Linked DNA regions of Homo sapiens. The protein of the gene in region 3 interacts with the protein of the main gene of each other region in a pairwise test. Each region holds a gene or a part of one and is shown on either strand. Other genes may lie near its edges.

What was found.
Region 1: the proteins of FAM13A (region 3) and CFAP97 interact in a two-hybrid assay, tested with the Homo sapiens proteins (one study listed by IntAct).
Region 2: the proteins of FAM13A (region 3) and PPP2R5E interact in a two-hybrid assay, tested with the Homo sapiens proteins (one study listed by IntAct).

The regions. Positions count from the first base shown.
Region 1 is NC_000004.12:185,193,999-185,201,026, forward strand, and holds part of CFAP97 (cilia- and flagella-associated protein 97), read right to left. Parts: intron 1-7,028.
Region 2 is NC_000014.9:63,379,376-63,386,403, forward strand, and holds part of PPP2R5E (serine/threonine-protein phosphatase 2A 56 kDa regulatory subunit epsilon isoform), read right to left. Parts: intron 5,197-7,028; coding exon 5,069-5,196; intron 2,783-5,068; coding exon 2,681-2,782; intron 1-2,680. UniProt on the Homo sapiens protein: The B regulatory subunit might modulate substrate selectivity and catalytic activity, and might also direct the localization of the catalytic enzyme to a particular subcellular compartment.
Region 3 is NC_000004.12:88,725,447-88,732,200, forward strand, and holds the end of FAM13A (protein FAM13A), read right to left. Parts: intron 6,753-6,754; coding exon 6,556-6,752; intron 5,983-6,555; coding exon 5,881-5,982; intron 4,658-5,880; exon of another isoform or gene 3,214-4,657; coding exon 3,087-3,213; 3' UTR 514-3,086; downstream 1-513.

The DNA of each region.
Region 1 (7,028 bases), about 96 Mb from region 3:
AGCAAACTACCTGTCCGTAAACGAAATCTTGTCTGCCATCTGTTTTTGTAAATAAAGTTTTATTGGAACACAGCCCCACTGATGGGTATATGTATTGTCTCCCCCAGCTTTCACACTACGACTGCAGAGCTAAGTAGCTGTGATTGAGACCCTATGGCCCACAGAGACTAAAATACTTAGCATCTGATCCCTTACTGAAAAGTTTGTAGGCCAGGCGCAGTGGCTCACGCCTGTAATCCCAACACTTTGGGAAGCCGAGGCGGGTGGATCACCTGAGGTCAGGAGTTCGAGACCAGCCCGGTCCACATGGCGAAACTCCTTCTCTACTAAAAATACAAAAATTAGCCGGGTGTGGCAGTGCGTGCCTGTAATCCCAGCCACTAGGGAGGCTGAGGCAGGAGGATCACTTGAATGCAGGAGGCAGAAGTTGCAGTGAGCTGAGATTGCACCATTGCACTCCAGCCTGGGCGACAAGAGTGAGACTCCATCTCAAAAAAAAGAAAAGTTTGTAGATCCTTGGTTGATAGATTTATTTAAATTTTTTAAAGAAACAGGTCCTCACTCCATCGCCCAGGCTGGAGTACAGTGACAGGATTCTAGCTCACTGCAGCCTCCAACTCCTGGGCTCAAGTGATCCTCCCACCTCAGCCTCCAGAGCAGCTGGGACTACAGGTGCATACCACTGTGCCCAGCTTGTAGACCCTTGATTTAGATGATGTATGAACATGAAAAATACAGAATACAAAACTTTTCTATACTGAATTAATAATACAATTTACAGTTAAAGCAAAACTAGGGGAGAGGAGGCCATAAGTTAAGAATTGACCTTTAAAAGAAAAATGACATACAACCCCATTATAGTTCCATTACTGTTACCATAATAGTGTTTGTGTAATAAATTAGGCACATAAGTGATGAGTGGGAGTCTGCTCAGTGGTTGAAACGAATCAATGGAGTCAGACACACCCAGACTCAAAATATGATTCTGCTACTTCCCAGTTGTGCGATCCTGGGCATGTACACAGGATGTTCACGACAGCACAGCATCTACTACTGTTTGCAGTAGCAATGCATGAGGAACAACTTTACTGTCTATTAAGAGGAAAATGAATAAATAAAATGTCGTGTAAGCACATATCTGCCAAAAAGGATACACTGAGATCTACAAAAATAACACTGAATAAAAAAGCAGAATTTAAAAAGCAACGAGGCTGGCACCATGGCTCATGACTGTAATCTCAGCAGTTAGGGAGGCCAAGGTGGGAGGACTGCTTGAGCCCAGGAGTTCCAGACCACATAATGAGACCCCGTTGCTACAAGAAATTAAAAAATAAAAATTAGCTGGGCATAGTGGTGTGCCTGGAGTCCCAGCTACTGAGGAGGCTGAGGTAGAAGGATCACCTGTGCACAGGAGGTTGATAATGCAATGAGTCATCATCACACCACTGCACTCCAGCCTGGGCTACAGGGCAAGACCTTGTCTCAAAATAAACAAATAAATAAGCAAGCAATGATACAATTACATAAAACTTAAAACATATACAAAACAATGCTATATTCTTCATGAGCACAAACATACAAGCCAAGTTATAGAACATGGATTGGAAGGATACACATTAAACATGAGTATAACTCATGAGGGGAGGGGAGAGGAGTAGTGTGCTCAGGGGAAGGAGAAATATAAAAACTCGGATAGAGGCCTGCGATCTTGAGTCATCACAAACGTAAAGACTATGGCTGATCATAATCTAATTTTGCCCACTTGAATGTAAAAGGAAAAACAAACTAAAATAGCCACTGAATGGTGAATAGGTCTTATAACACTGTCATTAAACTCCCAAAAATGTCACCTTTTTTTGTGAGATAATTCACCTTTGAAAACAAAATGTCAAGGAGTGGAATAAAAAGAACTGTGGATACCCCACAGTGTAATGGTGAGCACTCTGGACTCTAAAAAGAACTGTGGTTGTTGTTTTTTCCTTTCTTACTTTGTTGTGTGGTTAAGAATATCTTTGCAATTAAAAATTTTAAATTGTTTCTTCAAATTTCAAAAGTAAACGGTTTAATAGCATAGCCCAGAGCAATATTTTATAAACTACAGGTCACAATCCAGTTTAAAATCAATTCAGTAGCTCATGTCCATCATTAAACTGACGAAGTAGAACACAGTGTAATAATCAAGAGTGCATTATAGGCCAGGTGCAGTGGCTCACGCCTGTAATCCCAGCACTTTGGGAGGCCGAGGTGGGCAGATCACTTGAGGTAGGAGTTCAAGACCAGCCTGGCCAACATGATGAAACCCTGTCTCTACCAAAAATATAAAAAATTAGCTGGGTGTGGTGGCACGTGCCTATAATCCCAGCTACTCGGGAGGCTGAGGCAGGAGAATCACTTGAACCTGGCAGGCGGAGGTTGCAGTGAGCTGAGATCATGCTTCCAGCCTGGGGGACAGAAGGATAGTCCGTCTCAAAAAAAAAAAAAAAAGAGTGCATTACATATTATAAGAGTAAGTTTCATGAAACCATCATTTCTATTACTTAAATGCATTGAGTGTACTAGGCCTTGATGTAAAACCAGCTTCACATTCCTGAGAGTCTCAGGCAAGGGTTGGAAATGCCACTGATCTATGGAGATAAAAAGCTTTCATCAAAAGGTAATGTACTATGATACATAAAGATGGAATGAAAGGTTAAACTTTGGGTGGTATTAGACAGTGTCAAGTGTCATAGGTAATATGACAGAGTCTAGGAAAACTCTGCTAATAGATTAAGGCCTCACTACAATAAATCAGGAACCAGAGTTGAAGAAATGTAGTTTAAGGCCAAGCGCAGTGGGTTGCGCCTGTAATCCCAGCATTTTGGGAAGCTGAGGTGAATGGATTATTTGAGGTCAGGAGTTCAAAACCAGCCTGGCCAACGTGGTGAAACCTTATCTTTACAAAAATACAAAGATTAGCTGGGTGTGGTGGCAGGCGCCTGTAATCCCAGCTACTCAAGAAGCTGAGGCAGGAGAATTGCTTGAATCCAGGAGGCAGAGGTTGCAGTGAGCTGATATTTTGCCACTGCACTCCATCCTGGGCAATAGAGCGAGACTCCCTCTTAATTAAAAAAAAAAAAAAAAAAAAAGACATGTAGCTTAAATTACAAATATAAAAAATAAACATTTTCTTGAAATTTGAAGAAACTGAAATCACAAAATTATTTAGCTATAAGAGATGGATGATTACACTGAAGAAATGAAGAGATCTTAAACATAACAAAAGAGTAATTTTACTAACTCACAATCAAGTAATAAGTTTCTATTAATTCTTGGCCCAGAATTAATATTACACATATGTATATAAACTTATTAACAGCCACGTGACTATTACACTGAATGTCTCTGCTGGATTTTACTGGCGAATATATTAAAAGAAAAGTTGTTTTTGAATTTTTTTTTTTTTTTTGAGACAGAGTCTCTCTGAGTCTCCCAGGCTGGAGCGCAGTGGCGCGTGATCTCGGCTCACCGCAACCTCAGACTCCCTGCTTCAAGGGATTCTCCTGCCTCAGCCTCCCGAGTAGCTGGAATTACAGGCACGTGCCACCACACCCGGCTAATTTTTGTATTTTTAGTAGAGATGGGGTTTCACCGTGTTAGCCAGGATGGTCTTGATCTCCTGACCTCGGGATCCGCCCGCCTTGGCCTCCCAAAGTGCTGGGATTACAGGTGTGAGCCACCGCGAAAAGTTTAAATTTTCCTAGTCCACTTAACATCCAAATTATTCCAACTCCCATCCCTTAGAAAATTTTAAATCAAAAGCTAGAAATGATTAAGCTTAGTGAGGAAGGTATGCTGAAAGTCCAGGAGACAGGCCAAAAGCTAGGCCTCTTGCACCAGTTAGCCAAGTTGTGAAAGCAAAGGAAAAATTCTTGAAGGAAATTAAGACTGCTACTTCAGCGAACATGGGAATAAGAAAGCGAAAGAGCCTTACTGCTGATATGGAGAAAGTCTGAATGGTCTGGATACACCAAGCCAGCCACCACATTCCCCTAAGCCAAAGCCTAGTCCAAAGCAAGGCCCTCACTCACTTTCAATTCTATGAAGGCCGAGAGAGGTAAAGACGATGTAGAAATCTCAAGCTACCTGAGGCTGTCTCATAAGGTTTAAGAAAAGAAGCCTGCTCAGCCGGGTGTGGTGGCTCACGCCTATAATCCCAACACTTCCGGAGGCTGAAGTGGGCAGATCACTTGAAGTCAGGAGTTCAAGACCAGCCTGGCCAACACGGTGAAACCCTATCTCTACTAAAAATACAAAAACCAGCCAGGTGTGGTGGCAGGAGCCTGAAGTCCCAGCTACTTGGGAGGCTGAGGCACAAGAATCCTTTGAACTGGGAAGGCAGAAGCTGCAGTGAGCCAAGATTGCATCACTACACTCCAGCCTGGGTGACAGAGTGAGACTCTGTCTTAAAAAAAAAAAAAAGAAAGAAAGGAAGAAAAAGAAGCCTACTCTATCACATAAAAGTACAAGGTAAGCCAGGCATGGTGGCTCACGCCTGTAATCCCAGAACTTTGGGAGGCCGAGATGGGCAGATCACCTCAGGTCAGGAGTTCAAGACCAGCCTGACCAAAATGGTGAAACCCCATCTCTACTAAAAATACAAAATTAGCCGGGTGTGGTGGCGCATGCCTGTAATCCCAGCTACAGAGGAGGCTGAGGCAGGAGAATCACTTGAAGCCAGGAGATGGAGGTTGCAGTAAGCCGAGATCGCGTCATTGCACTCCAGCCTGGGCAACAAGAGCGAAACTCCATCTCAAAAAAAAGACAAAACAGTACAAGGTAAAACAGCAAGTGCTGATGGAGAAGCTGCAGAAGATCTAGCTAAGAGAATTGCTGAATGTGACTACAATAAACATCAGATTTCCAGTGCAGACGAAACAGCCTTCCATTGGAAAAGGATGCTAACCATCTAGGATTTTCATAGCTAGAGGGAGAAGTCAATACCTGGTCTCAACACTTCAAAGAACAGGCTGACTCTTATTAAGAGCTAATGGAGCTGGTGACTTTAAAATGAAGCCCGTGCTCATTTACCATTTCAAAAATATTAGGGCCCTTAGGCTGGGTACAGTGGCTCCCACCTGTAATTCCAGCACTTTGGGAGGCTGAGACGGGCGGATCACTTGAGGCCAGGAGATGGAGACCAGCCTGAGCAACAGGGCGAAACCCCATCTCTACAAAAAGAGAAAAATTAGCCAGGAGTAGTGGCATGTACCTGTTAATTCCAGCTACTGGGGAAGCTGAGGCTGGAGAATAGGTTGAACCCAGGAGGCAGGTTGCAGTGAGCCGCGATCCGGCCACTGCACTACAGCCTGGGTGACAGAGCAAGACTCCGTCTCAAAAAAGAAAAGAAAAATCTGGGTGCGGTGCCTCCCACCTATAATCCAAGCACTTTCGGAGGCCAAGGCAGGTGGATCACCTGAGGTCAGGAGTTCCAGACCAGCCTGGCCAACATGGTGAAACCCTGTCTCCACTAAAAATAACAAAAGTTAGCCAGGGGCTAATTTTTATATTAATAGTCTCAGCTACTCGGGAGGCTGAGGCATGAGAATCACTTGAACCCAGGAGGTGGAGGTTGCAGTGAGCCAAGATTGTGCCAGTGCATTTCAGCCTGGGTGAGGCAGCAAGACTCTGTCCAAAAAAAACAAAAAAGAAAAAATCTTAAGGGCCTTAAGAATTATGCTAAATCTACTCTGCCTGTGGTCTATATATAAAACAAAAAGCCCAAATGACAGCACACCTATTTACAGCCATAATTCACTTTATGTTTTAAGCCCACTGTTGAGATCGACTGCTCAGACAAAAAATTCAAAATATTACTGCTCATTGACAATGTACCTGGTCACCCAATAGCTCTAATGAAGATGTGCAAGATTAATGTTTTCACGCCTGCTAACAACATCCACTCTGCAGCCCATGGTTCAAGGAGTAAGTCAAATTTCAAGTCTTACTTTTCAAGAAATACATTTTGTAAGGCCATATTTGTCACAGATAATAATTCCTCTGACGGATCTGAGCAAAATAAATTGAAAACCTTCCCCATTAAGAACACTTATGATTCATAGGAGGAGGTCAAAATATCAACATCAACAAGAGTTTGGAAGAAGCTGATTCTAACCCTTATGGATAACTTTAAGGGATTTAAGACTTAACTGGGGAAGGAACTGCAGCTGTGGTAGAAATGGCACGGGAACTAGAATTAGAAGTGGAGCCTGGTATTTTAGAAGGCCAAGGCAGGAGGACCAGTTGAGCCCAGAAGTTTTAGACCAGCCTGGACAACATAGTGAGATCCCGTCTCTTAAAAGAAAAAACTAAACTACAAAATTAGCTGGGCACGGTGGCTCACGCCTATAATCCCAGCACTTTGGGAGGCTGTGGCAGGCAAATGACTTGAGGACAGTAGTTCGAGACCAGCCTGGCCAACAGGGTGAATCTCCGTCTCTACTAAAAATACAAAAATTAGCTAGGTGTGGTAGCACATGTCTGTAATCCCAGCTACTCGGGAGGCTGAGGCATGGGAATCACTTGAACCTGGGAGGTAGAGGTTGCAGCAGTGAACCGAGCTTGCGTCACGGCACTCCAGCGGGTGACAGAGTGAGATTCTGTCTCAAAAAAAAAAAAGCTGGGTTGCAGTGGCACGTGCCTGTAGAGGCTGTGAGGCAGGAGGATCACTTGGGCTGGGGAGGTTGAGGCTGCAATGACCTGGGATCATGCCAAAGCACTGCAGCCTGGGTGACAGAACAAGACCCTGTCAAAAAAAAGAAAAAATAAGTGGTGCCTCAAGATGTAACTGAATTGCTGCAATCTCACAATAAAACTTGAACAGATGAGGACTTGCTTCTTATGGATGAGCAAAGAAAGTAGTTTCTTGAGATGGAATTTACTCCTGAAGAAGCTGTAAATGTAGTTGAAATGACAACAAATGATTTAGAATATTCTGTATACTTAGCTAATAAAGCAGCGGCAGGGTTTGAGAAGACTGACTATGTTTTAAA
Region 2 (7,028 bases), on a different chromosome or scaffold from region 3:
ATTCTCCTGCCTCAGCCTCCTGAGTAGCTGGGATTACAGGCATGTGCCTCCACGCCCGGCTAATTTTGTATTTTTTAGTAGAGATGGAGTTTCTCCATGTTGGTCAGGCTGGTCGCAAATTCCCAACCTCAGGTGATCCGCCTGCCTTGGCCTCCCAAAGTGCTGCGATTACAGGCGTGAGCCACTACGCCTGGCCCCCATTTTCTCATTAAGAAAGTACACTCATTATAAATAACTGTAATATGCCAGAATATCATAATCAACCTCAACCAGGAATAGATAAAATAATAGTTTTATCTATTCCTGGTCCCCTTAGTTAATTCTCATCTTTTTCAAGGGTTTAGTCTATTTAGTTTAGATAATAACCAGAAAATAGTTTTATTATTGAAGTTCACTAAATACAAACCAAATAATTTGAGTGGAAATAAGTTGTTCTTCAATATTCTCTCTCTTTTTTTTTTTTTTTTTTTTTTTTTTGAGACAGAGTCTCACTCCAATGTCCAAGCTGGAGTACAGTGGCATGATCTTAGCTCACTGCAACCTCCACCTCCCGGGTTCAACTGACCCTCCCAACTCAGTCTCCCTAGTAGCTGGGACCACAAGCGCATGCCACCGTGCCTGGCTAATTTTCATACTTTTAGTAGAGACAGGGTTTCACCATTCGGCCAGGATGGTCTCGAACTCCTGACCTCAGATGACCCGCCCGCCTCAGCCTCCCAAAGTGATGGGATTACAGGCGTGAGCTACCGTGCCCAGCCAAGTTCTTCAATATTCTTGATGAGATTCTACGGATTTAATCCTGGTTCAACTAGGATAATAATAATGTGCTTTCAGAGAAGATGTTATGCACAAAGCACCTTTAACGATGCAACACAGTATTAAAATGTACCCTTGGCCGTTTTTTTAAGTAACATCCTTTAAAGATTTTAAGTTTGGGGCAAGGAGGGTTATCATAAATTTATAATTTGCAACAATCGCTAATATACTGAATTAAAAGTTGTTTAGGGCTGGGCGCGGTGGCTTACGCCTGTAATCCCAGCACTTTGGGAGGCCGAGGCAGGTGGATCATGAGGTCAGGAGATCGAGACCATCCTGACTAGCACAGTGAAACCCTGTCTCTAGTAAAAATACAAAAAATTAGCCAGGCGTGGTGGCGGGTGCTTGTAGTCCCAGCTACTTAGGAGGCTGAGGCAGGAGAATGGCATGAACCTGGGAGGCGGAGCTTGCAGTGAGCTGAGATCGCGCCACTGCACTCCAGCCTGGGCAACAGAGCAAGACTCCATCTCAAAAAACAAAAAAAAAAAAGTTGTTTAAACTGTGAGTATGGAATAACATATCCCATAATTGATAATAATCCCAATATTCTGGGTAAAAAATCCCAGCCTCTTCTGAGATTCTCAGCTAAATACTCACCACATTCCATAATTAAGTTGGTTTTCATAAACCACATCCCTGGTAACTTAAAACAAAAAAATCATTGCAATGGTCCCTCTGCCATCAAACCTTTCCCCTCATTGCTCTTTTTATCAATAAAATGCAAGTTGACAGACTAAAAATGAGACAAAGCAAAGCACCAAGGGAACCAGAGAGGTTCAGCAAGACCCTGGGTATGAACACTCGCACACATCTCTGGGTCCTCTAAGGTCCATAGCTTTATGATATACAAAGCTGACATCTGCTTATGGATGATCAAAGCCAAACCACAGGCGCAACTACTAAGAGCTCTCTAGACTTCTATAATCTCCCCAAGTACATCTTTTGGAAAGTAGAATGCATTGGACAAGATTTTTACTAAGCCATAAGCATTTATTGCAAAGAGTTCCACTGGTTTGTTCTCCCATATGGTCTCAAACATTTCTGGTTAATACCAGACTATTAACCTTCATGTTCTTTTCACTGATCTTTAAATTGTAATAAATTTGTTGGGTTCTAGTAAGTCCTGGGCCCAAGAGCTAGATAAATGGTGCCTCATTCCCCCTGCTATTGGAGTGAAGTACAAGATCTGCCCAATTATACTTCAAGTAAGTTCAGAGTGGGAGTGAATCCCAGAGAGCAAACTACCTGATGGTCCCTTTAAGTGAACCTAAAATACCAGTTAAATGCTGGGCTCTTAACCCTGAGGCAGAAGTGAAATATTATTAAAGAAAGGAAAGAAAGCGGGCTTTATCAAAATGAGTGTCAGGAAGCTTTGTTACTCAGTGGCACAGTAATAAATAAATAAAGACACAGTTAATAAGTGTGCAAAAATGAATATATAAATACAGTCATGTGCCAAATAACAACATTTCGGTCAACACAGACCACATATACCACGGTGGTCCCATAAAATTTTAACAGGGTTGAAAAAGGCCTACTGCCTAGTGATTTGTGTTACAATTGGCTACGGTATTCACCACAGGTTTGTAGCCTGGGAAGAACAGGCAATACTACATAGTTCAGGTGTGTCATAGTAGGCTACACCATCTAGGTTTGTGTAATTACTGTATACTTATGATGTTCACACAATACAATTGCCTAAGGATGCATTTCTCAGAACATATACTGGTTGTTAAGTAATGCATGACTGTAAACAAAATTGTGCTGCTTAAGATTTGGGGTACAATTAGGCAACTTCAGCAAAGAGCAAGGAAAAAACTCAATAGCTTTATGCACAGCTGACAAAAAAGCTTTAAAAAGTTACCGCTGACGATCTGACTTGTATGTGGCTGTCAGCTCGTCAAACATGGTGCTGTTCATTTCCATAAATGCCTTCAACACATTGTACACCAACGCCACAATAGCCCTGGAAAGCACAGAAAAAAAGGAGTGTGTTAGTTAGTCTTATAAAATGGGATACTGAATGAAGAAAGCAAAAGCACAACTTTTGTCTGAATGATTTCTCGTACTGCACACTGTCTGTATCCTTTTTTAGTTGGAACAACTGAAAATGACCTACAGTTCATTTCCACATCAAGAGATTTCAAGGCAAGATAATTTTCTGAGGGGTGGTAGAACTAGAAAAAAAATCTAACTTTGCCCTTCTAATTTCTTTTTTTTTTTTTTTGCAACGGAGTTTCGCTCTTGTTGCCCAGGCTGGAGTGCAATGGCACCATCTTGGCTCACCGCAACCTCCGCCTCTTGGGTTCAAGCAATTCTCCTGCCTCAGTCTCCTGGGTAGCTGGGATTACAGAAGCGAGCCACCACACCTGGCTAATTTTGTATTTTTAGTAGAGACGAGGTTTCTCCATGTTGGTCAGGCTGGTCTCGAACTCCCAACCTCAGGTGATCTGCCTGCCTCGGCCTCCCAAAGTGCTGGGATTATAGGCGTGAGCCACCACACCTGGCCTGCCCTTCTAATTATTGGCACCCAGAATAGAGCTGCCTGTGGGCATTTGATAATTTCATTTAATAAAAAGGCAAGTATAATAGTAAAGCAATTTCACCCTAAAATAAGGATCTGTGATAGCACTAACCTTAGACATCTGAATTTGCATAGAATTCTATTTTCTAAATAACACATAATTCATCAAAATCAGAAGCTACTTCCCTAGAAACAAATGTTATATATATATGTGTATATATATAAATTATTCTTATCCAAAGAAATGAAATCAAGCCCTCATGTAGGTTGGGTGGTTCAATATGAATTATCTGTCTAGCTCTGATCTGCACCAGTCCTGCTGACCCAAAATATATGCTGATAACTGGCAAGCTGGGATGGTTGCTATTAGCTATGGGACACTATACAGCTAAACAGCCAAAATGGTAGCCCATACTTAACAAGAATTAGCTCTTGGGCAATGTGAGGACAAGGTTATGATGGGCTTGATAGCTTCAGACTAGAGTCTAAATAGCTTTTCCTTTTGCAAAAATATCCGTTGCTTCCGTTTTGCAACAAACATGCTCCTAATACCACTGAAAAATGCATTGGTAAAAATTAGCCATATATTAAATAAACCATGAGTCTGATGTTTCCAAAACATTTACAAGAAAGTACACTTGCTGTGTAGCTTCTGCCTTGTGCCATTAAAAGGAAAATTTAAGTTCTTTTCTGTTAAGGTTCCAGAATGACCTTCCTCCCAAGGGCAGTGATGGGAAAGCACCAAATGTAGTATACTGAGTAGTTACAGACACTTGCTAGAACCGTTCTCTAGGTCCTCAAGAGACTATCTGTATAAAGGGACTTAACTGTTTATCAGCTCCTTATTTTTACAAGTTCTATTAATATAATTAGGCAAATTTGAAAAATTAGAAATGTGATATTTTATAATTACATGCAAAATTTTTAAAGATAAACATATTATGAATATACTGAATTGTATCTCCCAATTTTTAAATACCACATTAAATTTTCCTTCTATTCCACAGAGAAAAATGTAAAGGCATTCAAATTCAGAATGCTTTAACTTTCATAGGGCTGGATGTTAAACTTCCCTTGATGATTTTAAACTCCTTCCTTTCCAAGAGATACATATAGCGACTGAGTTGGCTGTTAAATAGATCACACTAAAATGAAAACCTAGTCAGACCACTTCCCCACTTAACAACCCTTCAGTACTTCCTCATCATCTACTTGGTGAAGGCTCACACGAGTCCCACAGTCTTTTCTAGCCACATCCTCTAGCACCCTCCCCAAAAGACCTTGTGCCTCAGCCCTCCCAAACTCACAGGTCTCAGAAACTGACAGCTGCTTTTTACATCTTTGTGCCTTTTAACATGATGGATGGACCCACTGTCTGAAAGGGCTCTCCCCATGCCATCCACCTGCCAAATTCCTTTCAGATTCAGTCTAAGCATGGCCATGCTGTCAGTATCTACACACCTCTCCTCTCAGCTGCAGTGCCTCCCCAAAAGATCTGCTACCTTCATAGACAGATCAAGAAGCCTGTCTAGTAAACAGATACTTTAACCGGTATTTTGTTAAAGTATCTGTTTATTTTCTCCAGTCAGTGAATCCCCAGAAGGTAAGGATTTTATCTTTTCACATACGTCTTCAGCAACAAGGACAGCATCTGGCACATAATAAGGCTGAAGGGAAAGAAAGAGAGGAAGGGAGGAAGAGAACGGAGGAAAGAAACTGAAAACCTACGGATTCCAATGTTCTTTTGAAATCCTATAAAGGCTGGAAAACATGATGGGAAGGATGACGTTAGAGTTTTCTTCTATCAAACTCATGATGTATTCATTATTCCAATAATAGAGTGCTCTTTCTGCCACCTTTGGGAAAAGAAAAATAAAATGTTAAGAGAGAGAAAAAGACAAAGATAAAACAAAATTATAAATCTTTCCAAACAAAAGTATTTCAAAAGGCTATTTGTAAATCATTCAATTAGAGGTAAAATTAAATATTAATCACATTTTAATATATATATATTTTTTGAGATGGGAGTCTCGCTAGTGGCGCGATCTCGGCTCTCTGCAACCTCCGCCTCTCGGGTTCAAGCGATTCTCCTGCCTCAGCCTCCCGAGTAACTGGGATTACAGGCACATGCCACTATGCCTAGCTAATGTTTGTATTTTTAGTAGAGGCGGGGTTTCACCACATTGGCCAGGATGGTCTCGATCTCCTGACCTCGTGATCCGCCCACCTCAGCCTCCCAAAAGTGTTGGGATTACAGGCGTGAACCACCGTGCCTGGCCCACATTTTAAATGTTTGTGGATTTTTAATCTCTTGGAAAATTCCAAAGTGGGCCAGGCACGGTGGCTCACACCTGTAATCCCAGCACTTTGGGAGGCCAAGGCAGGCAGATCACTTGAGCCCAAGAGTCTGAGACCAGCCTGGGCAACATGGGGAGACCTCGCCTCTACAAAAACACAAAAATTAGCCGGGATTGGTGGCATGTGCCTATAGTCCCACCTACTTGGGAGGCTGAGGTGGGAGGACTGCTTGAGCCTGGGAGGCGGAGGTTGCAGTGAGTGGAGATCATGCCACTGAACTCCAGCTTGGGTGACAGAGCAAGACCGTGTCTTCTCCTCCCACCAAAAAAAAAGTCCAGAGTGGTTCAAGTGGTTCATCGACTCAGGGAAGGAAAAGAAGTTTTCCTGTTAATTTATATTCTTCTCTAATTCTGCCCATGTCATCTGATTCCACACTTTCCTGACATCACTTTAGCACATCTCACTGGTCCCCTTTCTTATGTTTTTCATCACACACACTTAGATCGAACCCAGGGCCCAGCATATGGTTAGCATTCAGTCACAGCTACTGAGGAACACCCACAGTTGCTCATCCCTGTAGAGCGGCCAATATTTACTAAGTACCTCCTATGGGCAGGCACTGTGCCTACACAGCAAGTAGAATGTATCATCCTTACCACCATCCCAGAAGGAGATACCATTGTGCTCATTTTACAGGTGAGGACACAGAGACTCAGGGAGACTGAGTAATGTAGGCAAGGTTACACTGACAATATGGTAAAGACTGGGGCCTCATTTCTAGGGCTTCTTCCAGAGTTTGTTTCTGGTCCCTTCCTGTGCAAGCCAGGAGATGTCTGCTCAGTTTCTGGTCTCAGGGACACTGGCTGCACCTACCCTCTCTGCTCTCTTAGATCCCTTTTCTCTGCCCACCATGCTATCAACTGGCTCTAATTTGGTCTGCTGGGCCTGATTGGCTCATCTTGGATTTCATGAATTCAAAAGAACATCTCAAAAACAAAACCTAAAATCTCTAAAAAGGGTAGTTACAGGGGAAAAGGGAAAAAGGGGTGGCTTCCTTCATTTATACAGATTAAGAAGCCCTGTTTTAGAAGAGAACAAAATGGTATAAGATGTATCTACCGAAAGACACTGAGAAAACAGAATTTTTCCATTTACATTATTCAGCTTGGTTCAAAAAACAAAACAAAACCCTGAGACTCATTAGGCACCAGACCCTGAGAGTACAAAGAAAACAATCATTACTGCATGTTCACTATATGCCAGGCACTGTGCTAAGTGTCCCACATATATAATATCTCATTTCCTCACAACCAACAGAGTTGGTACCATTACTTTTCTATTTTGTGGATGAAGAATCTGAGACTCAGAGAAGCCATTGGCTCAAGGTCAC
Region 3 (6,754 bases):
AATGTCACACCTGGGAGCAGGCACACCCTGCAAGAGGCTATTCCGCTGCCACCCAAGCAATGAATTATGAGACAAAGCAAAAATTACACTGATGTTACAGAGACATCACTGATCCCTGCAATGAGTAATAATCTTCTTTTGACTTTGAACTGGTAGGCAAATGGAAGAAATCTTAACAGCTGACAACATCCTAGCTGGTAATTAAAAAAATAATTTTTAGTACTCCAGTTTGAAATTTGGTCTTTCACGGAAATTTTCCCTCATTTGGGAGGTCACCAAAATTGTGCTAGCTTTTTAAATTTTTATTATTTTTTTTAAAGCAGCACAGGACAAACTTCTACCATCTTGAAAAACTTCTAAGCTGTCCCTTATCCTAAATCTTGCACCTACAAGTCTTAGAAAGTGAATCTGAACTAAATGATTCAAAGATGAAACATAATGATATCATACTTAATATAAACATCTATTTCAACGTTTACGCCAGACTGAACACAATAAAAGTACTTATGAAAATTATAAGTCTGCACTCTTTAATTCTTAAGTTTACTTACACTTATGAAATAACTCTTGACATTTATTTTGTTGGCATGTGCTAATTAATAAACACATATTCCCAACACAGCAAAGGAAAAATCCCAGTCCAGAGCATTTTGTCTTTGTGAAGCCAATTAATTAAGACACCGCCTCTAGTGCCTTGAGATTCTGGGCTGCAGAAATGGTTGCTGGGGAACACATCTCCCTCGGCAGAGCCAGAAACCACTGACTGACTGACTAACAAACATTTCTTCAAATAAGATCTAGTGTGAAAAGGGCTTCCTCTCATTTCTTCTGGGCTCCATTCCATGAAGAATATAAGTTAGTTAGTTAGTTAGTGGAAATTACAAAGGAAAACACAACATCTCATACACAATTTATTTTATATAACTTACTTGGTGTTTTCTTTTATTGAATCATACAAATTCAAATGGGGATTCCTGAATAAATCTTTAGTTAATTTACCTTTGGCAGAAACAACAGATTCCAAAACAATTAGTAGCATCTCATTTATTTGTAGCTTAAAAAAAAATTCTGTAGCGTATTTTTCCAAAAACATAGTCTTAAACAAATGTGCTTTAAAAGCTAACTGGTAATGATCTGATTAATATCATAGCTTATTTAAGAGAGCTATTAAAGGACAGACTAGACATGTATTTTTAAAAAAACACAATTTTTGGTCATGTGAATGATTCATGTTCAGATTTCAAAAATAGGAAACATCCTAAAGTGCATCATTTTATTTATAATCTCACTCCTTGAAATTATAGCAATCTGCAATGTAAACAGTAGAGCAAAGAATTCCAAACTATATTTTTATGTACATTTAAACCTGTAGGATTATGTACCGTCTTTGTGTATGGATTAAAACCAGGGCACTTCCAACACATAGCTCAAGCTTCCATACGATTAAGAGCAAACTTAAAGGCATTCTTTTTCCCCATCCTTAACATTCAGCTGACAGAAGAGAGCTGCTACCTCACTTCAGCAATGGAAAATGTTGCTGTAAATCCCATTGGACCAGCCAGTTTCTCACGACCCTTTAAAACTGAAAACGGGTCAGTATAGTTTTACATTCTTTTTCTTTTCCTTAAAACTGTGCCCTTTCAGAAGGCAACTTTCAAAACATACGAGGGTGCCTCTGCTGTGTGTTCATACTGTAACACGTCGTCTAAGGCAGAGCTCCTGAAGCACCTTCTCTGGTCAGCCGTGGCAGGCGAGCAGATGCCTGGGCTCGGCCTCGCAAAGCACAAAGGTGGACACAGAACCCACTGTCCTTGGCGCAGGAGTTAAAAAAGTAACAGCAAATCATGAGGTGACATCAGGCACACTGAAGAGATGGAGGATTTGGTGTCTTACATTTCCTGGTCCCTCCAAAATGTCTAATATAGACAGTTTTGTGACAAAGTCTTTGAAAAAAATTATAATTGGCCACACAGCATGACTTCTTTTTTTTCTTTTTATACATGATCTCGAAAATAGTGTGATTTAGATTCTGCCTTGGGCTGAGCTCTGAGGGCTACATTTACCTGTCAGTTTGGGGATTTTAGTGCAGATTTTTTTTAAAAAAATTAAACTCTGGTAAGTACTCAGGAGGCTGAGAACACAGGCCCCTTCTCTCCCCGATCCTCTGTATGCAGGCTGACTTAAGCCCCTTTATGTTTGGCTAGTGCCACAACAAAACAGCCCCAAACAGATTGCCATGAGCATGCTAGCCTGGCTTGGTGTTTGACGATAAAATCAGACTGGTAAGTGCAGTCAGTGTTCAGGAAAGAATCTCCAGGCTCTTCTCCCATGACCTGGTTTTAAAATCAGCATTCATACAGCTGCTTACCATCTCTCTGTCCTCTGCAGATGACCCGGTCCTAGGCAGGGACCAAAATTCCTTGTCAGCTGAGGAAGTCCTGAAGAAACATCCTGAAGATGATGACTGCACTGCCATCGTGGGCAGATGCAGCTTCCATCTACCTGAGGGCTGAAGGGGAAAACCTTTCACACACGTGAGGAAGGCGCAGCTCTGTGGAAAGGTCACTAGAATGGCAGCGGCAGCAAATAGGGCTCCAATGCACGTTTGCAGTTAACTGGGTCCAAGGAGAGCATGGCCCTCCACAGCAAGTTTGCTCTATAGAATAAAGTCCTGAGCTTGTTTTTATCACAGTTAGACAGAGAATGGTCTCTTGTTTCTCAGTTATCCAGGGAAGAACAGTGTATATTCTCTGTAGATGAGTGTTGTCTAATGTAGTGATTAATCTCTGCTAGTGTTAGGAAAGCTCCACTACTGTGTGTGTGTGTGCGTGCATGCGCGTGCGCATGTGCACATACTGCAGTCTTGACTTTCCAATTACAAAATGCCTAAGTCAGGTCACATTGTCTTCTTCCAGCCAGTTTCTAAGGCAGGCAATGGAAACAGGAGCCGATGCCAAATGGTCTAGAGGCAGAAGGGCTGCATGCTTTGCAGGGCCAGCCCCAAGGCTGCCTTCCAGAGCTGCACTTTCTCTGGGGACAGTAAACTCTCACCGCAGCTGCCAGCCCCCTGTGCTTGGCCATGCCCCTCACATGGACTTGGAATCAGTGTCTCTCTTGCTGATGAGCACCTCCAGGAGCCTCAGTTTCGCCTTTATGTGCTTATATTCACTGTATTCTTCAGCCATAGGAGTGCGGTCTTCCTTCTGGACATTTCTAATGCAAATAAAGGAAAAAGGGGTCTGAGGATCATTTTCTGTCTTTGCTAGATACTATTCATCGGGCAAATTATCATTGTTTAGAAACTTTGCAGTTTATCAACTTGTAGAATCAGTGTTGCCGAGTGGCCCTTGGTCTCAAGACTGGGGCTGGATTTAGACAAGTAATGAAAATGTTTCACCCAGAAGGCAACATGCAACTGAGTTTTTATATAGTTAATCTGGCATCCTGTATGATAAGAAGGCTAAGAAATGCAGAAATTCTCTCTGCTAAGTATGAATTCACATTGAGCTCTCATACACCAAAATCTTTTATTCATACTTAATGTTTTCTCATTCTTATATATTTCATCTCGTGAAATTTTAAATTTTTAATTAGCAACTGGTCCACAACTTAGTTTTTTTTTTTTTTTTTTTTTCCAAAAACAGATAGTTAATACTCCTACTTATCATAAAACTGTGTTAGAATTCAGCAGCTGGATTACATAATACTATTATAATAAGCCTTTATTATTGAGTAACTTTACATACATAATATTTATATGCACAAGTATTTGAGAGCTTATAGGTCAAGCCCTGTGCTAAGTACTTTGTACCCATGATCTGATAGAACCCTTATAACACCTTGATGAGATGCAGCCATTTTCTACACACTACACATGATGAAACCAGCACAGGAAATCAGATAACTTGCCTGCTCTTGGCCACCACGCGGTGCGCTGCTGCTTTGTGTTTTATGGGAAATTGCACATGGCAAACATTCAACCATAGGCTTCCTGCCTTTATTATTAAAGGGCAAATATGGGTAAGGAGGATAGCATGGGGCTTGATTTGTTCAATGACCTAAAAATAAACTGATCTTATTCATACCCTGCCTTGTTCTAGGAAAGGATTCTAGTGGCTTCTCAGCAGAGGGCAGGGCAAGGAACAGGTGCTCAGGAATTGGAGCATCTGGCACGCAGGCCCCCACTGCACTCTGAGGGGCTTCACTCTCCTCAGACACGAAGTCATGGAACCAGAGCTTATCTCCTAAGTCCCTCATAGTTCTAAACTTTTTTGACAATTAAGTTAACGTCCTCCATTGACATTTTCTTAAAACCTGGGTGGTTTGCGTAATTCTACATGTATAAGATATCTGTGCATAATGTGACTTAGAATAATATAAAAAAGGATAAGCCAAAAAATAGGCTTAGATGAAAGACTGGAAAGATACACGTCAAAACATTAATTCTGACTTGTCTTTGGTTATTATTGTTTTGGGAATTACTACTTAAATTTGCTTACCTATATTTTCTAAATACTGTGCAATGGGTGGGAAATGAAAAGCAAGTGTTTAGGTATAAAAATATATGAGACATATCCAAATCAGAGATCCTAAAAGTAAATTCATACAATAATTGTTAAACTAAACTGAAATACAATATATTTTAAATGACAAAGTTAATTTTTATGGTGCTTTCATTTCCCCAAACTTTCAAGAAGTATAAAAGAGGACTCAAGAGAAACAATACTTACATAGCTTCAGTAATCTGGGTTAAATCCAATTTAAAATGATAAAACCTAACTCCAATGTAAGAGATGCAAATCTGTTCCTGGTTCTTTCCTCAGGCTCCTACTGTGACTTTCGGTAAGATTTTTGTGTGCTGTTGCTTGTAAACATGAAAGACTAAATTGTGCCTTAAAATTCACTGGCGAGAGGCAGCCCATCAACCAGGTAGATTTACTGCTTTTCTTTTCTTTGTTTTTTTTGAGACGAAGTCTTGCTCTGTAGCCCAGGCTGCAGTGCAGTGGCGTGATCTCGGCTCACTGCAACCTTGGCCTCCCGGGTTCAAGTGATTCTCTTGCCTCAGCCTCGAGTAGCTGGGATTACAGGCCTGTGCTACTGCACCCGGCTAATTTTTTGTATTTTTAGTAGAGATGGGGTTTCACCATGTTGGTCAGGCTGGTCTTGAACTCCTTACCTCATGTAATCCACCCTCCTTGACCTCCCAAAGTGCTAGGATTACAGGCGTGAGCCACCACGCCTGGCCGACTTACTGATTTTCATACATATTTTTCATTTAAACTTGGCAATTATCACCTTCATTTTTGAAATGAGCTTGAAAATCAGTAATACTTAGATCTCTCTTTCCCTTGTTTCTCTAGCTCCTTTTATTTAGAAATGAAGTCTCACTCTATTGCCCAGAATAGAGTGCAGTAGCAGACCACAGCTCCCTGCAGCCTCAAACTCCTGGGTTCAAGCAATCCTCCTGCCTTAGCCTCCCAAGTAGCTAGAGCTACAGGTGTGCCACTACGGCCGCTTGGCTAACCTCTAGCTTCTTAAGAAAAAAGCGTTGGTGCCACCACCAGCGGGAAACGCAGCTTCCTGCTGCTCATTGTAGATAAGAATTTGATGGGACAGGTTCATTTCATAAATGTCAGCTGAATCTGCATTAGTCTTGGGCATTACCCAAAGAGCATTTCTTCTGGGAGGTCCACACAAATCCCATCATCTCACAGTCAACCTCTAAGTGTCCCTGGGCACAAACCCAAGGACCAGGTTACAGGGAGGATGCAGAAGAGTCCCCCCTTTGAAGGCATTCCACAGATCTGACAGAAAAACAAGAGGGATGGGTGTGTGTGGTGCGGCGGGGGGGAAGGGAGGGTGGGGGAAGACAGGCACTACCTTCCATTCTGTCTGAAAAAGTTGTCTTCAAAATCCCGAAGTTTCTTTCGAATCCTTTTCTTTTCTTCTCTCATTTCCTGGAGGTGTTCCAGGAGTTCAGGTCTAAGAGAGAGGAAGCATTGCAAGGAAATTAAGTTAAATTTGAGTTGTCATAAATGTGATGAATGTGTAACTCAACAGGAGCTGTGCAGAAAGGGGAGGCAAGTAAATGCAGAAACTGCTGAGAGCATTGAGGGGGCGCGGAAATGCATGTTTTCCATTTCCTGAAAGCCAAACATGCTGGCAACAGATCCAGCTTCTGGGGGTTCCTGCTACTTGGGAATTCTTAGCCCTTGTGAAATCCCATGGCACTTTGTCATATTTTTCTTTGAAAGAAAGAGATGACATCTGTGCTCAGCGTGTGTTAAGTGATGGGCTGTGATGTACAGAACCACACGATGCCCTTTAGAGAGAGAACTTCTGGTTGTTTAAACAAGACTCAAAAGTTCCCTCAAATAACATGGGCTGAAGCATATAAAAAAAGAAATTTTTTAAAAAATCACCGTTTTATCCAGATACACCCCAGGTAGTCACTTGTATTTTATCAGCTAATTTATTTAGATACAAAGGCTAAGATAATATTTAAGTGAGCTATTTTTACCAAAACATTTCACCACCACCACCAAAATGACATACATTGAGGCAGCATGGAGATTTGAAAGCCCTGTGTCCTGGCTGCATTTTGATGGTATTTTATCATCCATTGGGGAAATAAATCCATCAGCGTCATCTTCGAATTGGTCCAGAAAGCATCGTGCACTGAAATCGGTTTTCAGAGTGACCATGAAGTCTGGCTTCACATTGCTATCGTCTTCTGACCCCTCCTCTTCTTCCT